Regions from separate parts of the Homo sapiens genome. Here region 1 is linked to region 2. Evidence: fine-mapped QTL for protein levels in blood plasma. A gene starts in region 2. The other region holds a variant in brackets. All regions are shown on one strand. Distances are from middle to middle.

Region 1 (2,912 bases), 450 kb after region 2:
TTTGTGTATTTTTAGTAGAGATGGGGTTTCACCTTGTTAGCCAGGATGGTCTCGATCTCCTGACCTTGTGTTCTGCCCACCTCGGCCTCCCAAAGTGCTGGGATTACAGGCGTGAGCAACTGCGCCTGGCCAACACATTTTATTTTTTGCAATGAAACTCTTTAAAGAACTAGAACATGGTTGGGCGTCGTGGCTCACACCTGTAATCCCAGTGAGAGGTGAAGCCAGCTGGACTTCCTGGGTCAAGTGGAGACTTGGAGAACTTTTCTGTGTCTAGCTAAAGGATTGTAAATGCACCAATAAGCACTCTGTAAAATGGACCAATCAGTGCTCTGTAAGATGGACCAATCATCAGGATGTGGGCAGGGACAAATAAGGGAATAAAAGTTGGCCACCCCAGCCAGCAGAAGCAACCTGCTCGACTCCCTTTCCACACTGTGGAAGCTTTGTTCTTTTGCTCTTTACAATAAATTTTGCTGCTGCTCGCTCTTTGGGTCCGTGCCACCTTTAAGAGCTGTAACACTCACTGCAGAGGTCCGTGGCTTCATTCTTGAAGTCAGTGAGACCAAGAACCCACCAGAAGGAACCAACCCCGGGCACACCAGCACTTTGAGAGGCCGAGGCGGGCGGGTCACCTGAGGTCAGGAGTTCGAGACCAGCCTGGCCAACATGGTGAAACCCTGTCTCTACTAAACATACCAAAAATTAGCTGGGTGTGGTGGCAGGCGCCTGTAATCCCAGCTACTCAGGAGGCTGAGATGGGAGAATTGCTTGAACCAGATAGGTGGAGGTTGCAGTGAGCTGAGATCGCATCATTGCTCTCCAGCCTTGGCAACACAAGCAAAACTCGTCTCAAACAACAACAACAACAACAACAACAAAACTAGAACATGGTTGATGGGTTGATGTATTTAACCATTTGGTAGGGAGTCAGTGTGACTGGTTCTGGAGATAACACTGATCACTTGGCTCAAGCCTGAATTCTTTCTTATGTCTTCATGTCCCACAAACTGTAGGAGAGGGTAGGTAATTTCCCTATGTGGGCTAAGGCAAAGGAAAGGCAGTGTATTAGGAGTCCCCATTAACACAAGCAGGGAGGATTTGGAATTAAGCTGTTGCCACAAGGCCAGTATGCCTCTTGGAGTGAGCACCTGGTGCCCTATGAGCAATTCCCTTACTGGCTGCCTTACATTCTGAGTGCAACAGTTTCTTCCCAATTGTGCTTTGTTTCCTTGCTGGCAATCCGCCCCCCCCTTTTTTTTTTTTGGAGATGGAGTCTCACTCTGTCACCTAGGCTGGAGTGCAGTGGCATGATCTTGGCTCACTGCAGCATCTGCCTCCTAGGTTCAAGTGATTATCCTGTCTCAGCCTCCCGAGTAGCTGGGATTACAGATACCCGCCACCATGCCTGGCTAATTTTTGTATTTTTAGTAGAGAGGAGGTTTCATGTTGGCTAGGCCACGTTGGCCAGGCC[G/A]GTCTTGAACTCCTGAGCTCAGGTGATCTGCCTGCCTCGGCCTCCCAAAGTGCTAGTATTACAGACGTGAGCCACCACGCCTGGCTGGCAATCCCTTCTTGAACTACACTCCAGGTGGCAAGAATCTGGACCCAGGACCTGGACACGTTCAAGTTGTCAGCTCCCTTTCCCTCAGGACTCTGACCTCCTATACTAATACCCCGTCGCCAAAGACCATATTGGTTAACATTTACCCAACACTGTATGTATTGGGCACTTAAAAGTGTTATACAGGCATTACCTCATTTTGTCTCATAACCACTCTATTCAGTAGATATCTTTCAGAAAGCTGAAGAGAGGCTCGGAAAGGTTAAGGAAATTGCCTAGACAGTAATGGTTGCGCCAGGACTCACCCTAGCTTTGTCTCCATGAGTGCTGCTTATCAGCCCTGCATAGCTCACAGATCCCTGTTGAACTACGAAGGTTCTGCCGCTTCCTGTAGAAGGATGACAGGATTCCATATCCATTCATCAGTCAGCCAACCCTTTGGCTCAACAAGCCTGGTCTAGGCATAAGCTATACCAATGGAAGATATTGGTACTACCTTCATGGAACACCTGCTGCCAGAAGCAGTAGAGCCAACCAGGTTGTGGCAACTGGCCTTGATAACCTATTTTCCACAGTAAAAGACAAATGGAGAAAATTCATCATTTTTCTGCTCTTTGTAATACTGTATTGTAAGTGTGTTATAGAAATGGAGATGTTTTGACCTTGCTGATCCAGAGGATATCTTGAGCACACTGTTTTGAACCTGACAATCTGCTTTTTACTTAGCCAAAAATTCAAAGTGGTCAGAATTGTAGGGAGGAATTGATTAGCTATATGATAGATCACTCCGGGACAACAGAACAACTATGGAATATTTGAGAGGATTTGCTTATAATTCACTCATGAATTTACTAAGAAATACAAATTATTCATCTTTTATGCATGATTATGGGAGAAATAAAACTGGCAGTGGTTGAAACTATTTCTGGGAAGTTTGATGTAGGAAAATTGGATTTGGTAGACAGTGATGAAAGTGACAGAGGAATAATGAGAGTTTTATGTGGACAAAAGATGAATGCAGAGTCTGGCCCGGTGCAGTGGCTCATGCCTGTATTCCCAGCACTTTGGCAGGCAGAGGCAGGCGGATCACGAGGTCAGGAGATTGAGACCATCCTGGCTAACACGGTGAAACCTCGTCTCTACTAAAAACACAAAAAAATAGCCGGGCGTGGTGGCGGGCGCCTGTAGTCCCAGCTACTGGGGAGGCTGAGGCAGGAGAATGGCGTGAACCCAGGAGGTGGAGCTTGCAGTGAGCCGAGATCGTACCACTGCACTCCAGCCTGGGCTACAGAGTGAGACTCCGTCTCAAAAAAAAAAAAAAGAGATGAATGCAGAATCAAATATTTAGACG
Region 2 (2,912 bases):
CCCCATGCACTGACACTGCACACTGGACTCCAAGAAACCCTTGCCCTAAGAGCCAGAACCCTCCACACCATCATTCCTAGGGAGATTCTGCATGATGCCAGTGTCCTTGGACCCTCTCTGAAGAGGACTTTTTGAGAGGAGAGTGTTTGTGGAGCCGAGGTTTGTGCCTGTACCCTGGAGGTAAGCAGGTGAGGGCAGCAAATCCTAGTTCCTCTCAATGTAAGGCAGAACTTCCCACTTCACACTGTGGGAAGTTCTTCAAACTTGGAGTTTTAAAAGAATCCAAGGGGCTACAGTGCATGATGAATGTGCCCCGATTTCCTGGAACTTAGAGTCGATGAACACTTAACTTATGCAGGTAAAGGCAGAAGTGTGTGGCACCGTTGGTGAGTGAGGAGGCAGCCAGACAGCACTACAGCTCTTCTAAGGAGCAGGAGAGTGACCTCAAGCTGTGTTAGGGGTGGTGAGGCTGATTTTAGGGAGGGTAGAGGATGGTGCTGGAAAGGGCCACTGTGGCCAGCTCAGATGAGCTTCAAGGATCCCCTGGTTAGGAGCATGAACTCTCATCTGTGGGCAGAGGGATCTCAGGTTAAATTTTAGGAACTGTAGCAAGCTGTGGCGAGGAGTGAGGGGACTTTTTGGGATAAAATTGTCTTATGAGCTCAATTGCATCCCCTAAAAATTCATTGGTTTAAGCCCTAACCCCCAATATCCCAGAATGTGACTGTAATGGAGACACGGCCTTTAAAGAGGTGGCTTAGGTAAAATGAGATAGTTAGAGTGGACCCTAATCCAATACAGCTAGTGTCCTTATCAGAAGAGGAAATTTGGACACAGAGAGAGATGCCAGGGATGCATGCCATGTAAGAGGCAGCAAGAGCATGGCCATCTGCAAACCAAAGAGAGAGGGCTCAGAGGAAAACAAGCCTTCCCCAATGGCTTGACCTCACATTTCTAGTCTCCAGAACTGTGAGCAAATAAATTTCTTTAGTCAAAGCCACCCAGTTGCAGTGTTTTGTTGTGGTGGCAGAGCAAACAGATAAAGTAGTAAGTCCCTCCAGCACCCTAGGAGGTTCTGCTTGTTGCCATTCCCCAAAGGCCATCCTAGCCATGATGAGGGCAGGTGCGGTTGTTTGGGAGGAGACCACTGTGGAACAAAGAGAAACAAGGCTTGCTTGATGCAGCAGGGAGTAGACTACAGATTCAAGAAGGGCTCTAGAAAGGTCCAGCAATTCAGCTTGTCAGGGAACCCCGAGCTGTATGTAGTTCTTGCTCTCCTGTGCCCTGCAGGATGGCTTGACCCATTTCTGTTCTCATGTCAGACCCTAAGGGCAGGGTCATCTGGGCCACAGACCCAGGCCCGGTGGGCCTGGTGGGCTGACCTGTGGGCTATTCTTATGCCTTCAGGAAACCCACCTTTACCACCTGGCTGTTGTGACTGGCATCGCTGAGGCTGTTTCTTTGTGTATAAAATCGAATAAGGACACATCACGTGCTAGCAATCCACCAGCATAGGGCGAAGGCTCAGCAAAGAGAAGTTCTCTCCTCCTCTGCTCTTTTAGGTCAGCAGCAAATGCAGATCGGGGTGGGGACAAGGTAAACACATAACTTGGGTGGAGATGTGATTGATTAATAACTCATAAATCATCTGAAACCATACTTTCCTTTTGATAGTCAACCCTCTGTAAACACTCAATGTGTTCTCACCTTGTTATCATTCCCAATGATGTCGAATGCGTGGTTGCCCTCTCCAGTATAAAAGTTTGATGCAGCTTTGCCTGGATGTACCTGTCTATAAGGAGTCCTGCTTATCACAATGGTAGGTAACTGGTTTTATATATAAAGGCTAGAAAAGCAAAAGAGAATATGTATTCCTATTTTAATATGCGTGTGCTTCTACCACATAGCATTGAATGGTAAATGTGACCTAGTTAGGAACCTTATGTTATTACCTGCAATTCAATGTGCAGAGTATGAGAGTCTGAGAGCTTGCGAAAATTGTAATGAGTTTAGCACTAGTTCTGTTCTCTAAGATCTAAGTTGTTTTTCCTTCCAGTAATTCTGGGGTTCAATTAGATTTCATAAGTGTCTCTAATTCTTGGGTCCTATGTGAGTAATTTGAAATTAAAAATAATTTCAGAGCTACATGACTGCATCGTTTTTGAGATGAGGGAACTGAGCCTGGGGAGGGGAAGAAGCTGCCACTGGGGTCTCACCGCAAGCCTGTGAATGAGCTGAGATAGGAACCCAGGCATTCCTCTCTCCCTGCCAGGGGCTCCCAAACTTGGCTGTGCAGTGGAAACTCCGGGGGAATTTTGAAGAACACTGACACCCATCTTCCACCCCGACACTCTGATTTAATTGGGCTGCAGTGAGAACAGAGCATCAATTTAAAAAGCTGCCCAGGTCATTTTAATACTCAAGTTTGGGAACCATTTCCCTAGGCCCTTTTCACTGTATCATGTGTTAAGGAAAAATCTTGGGTTTGGGGCTGTGTTTGTTGGTTTATTTGTTTGTTTTTGAGACAGGATCTCACTCTGTTGCCCAGGCTGGAGTGCAGTGGTGCAGTCATGATTCACTGCAGCCTGGACCTTCCTGGGCTCAGGTGATCCTCCCATCTCAGCTTCCCAAGTAGCTGGGACCACAGGCGAGTGCCACCATGCCCGACTAATTTTTGTATTTGTTTTAGAGATAGGATTTTGCTATGCTGCCCAGGCTGGTCTTGAACTCCTGGGCTCATGCAATCTGCCCACCTCAGCCTCCCAAAGTGGTGGGATTACTGGTGTGAACCACTGTGCCTGGCCAAGAAAGAATTTTGCTTCAAAATTTATAAAAACCCATGCAGGCTTTTCTTGTGTCTTAAACTTGATCTTTCTTAAAACATTCTTTACTAACGCTGGGGACTGAACTGG

What was found. A credible set is the group of variants that fine-mapping cannot tell apart. PIP is the posterior inclusion probability: the model's chance that the variant is causal. Protein levels are from the aptamer-based SomaScan assay of Sun 2018.
Region 1: its variant is the best candidate, but not a certain one, in a credible set for the plasma level of the MSMB protein (Sun 2018, PIP 0.60).

Annotation. Positions count from the first base shown.
Region 1 is chr10:45,595,440-45,598,351 of GRCh38, reverse strand. No RefSeq gene overlaps it. Among named protein-coding and RNA genes, the nearest start is that of MARCHF8, 62 kb to the right of the region's middle. The variant G/A (reference allele first, on the strand shown) is at 1,475.
Region 2 is chr10:46,045,142-46,048,053 of GRCh38, reverse strand. It overlaps MSMB (microseminoprotein beta), which reads left to right and starts at 1,785. Exons shown (of 4, transcript NM_002443.4): 1 at 1,785-1,819. The coding sequence starts at 1,817.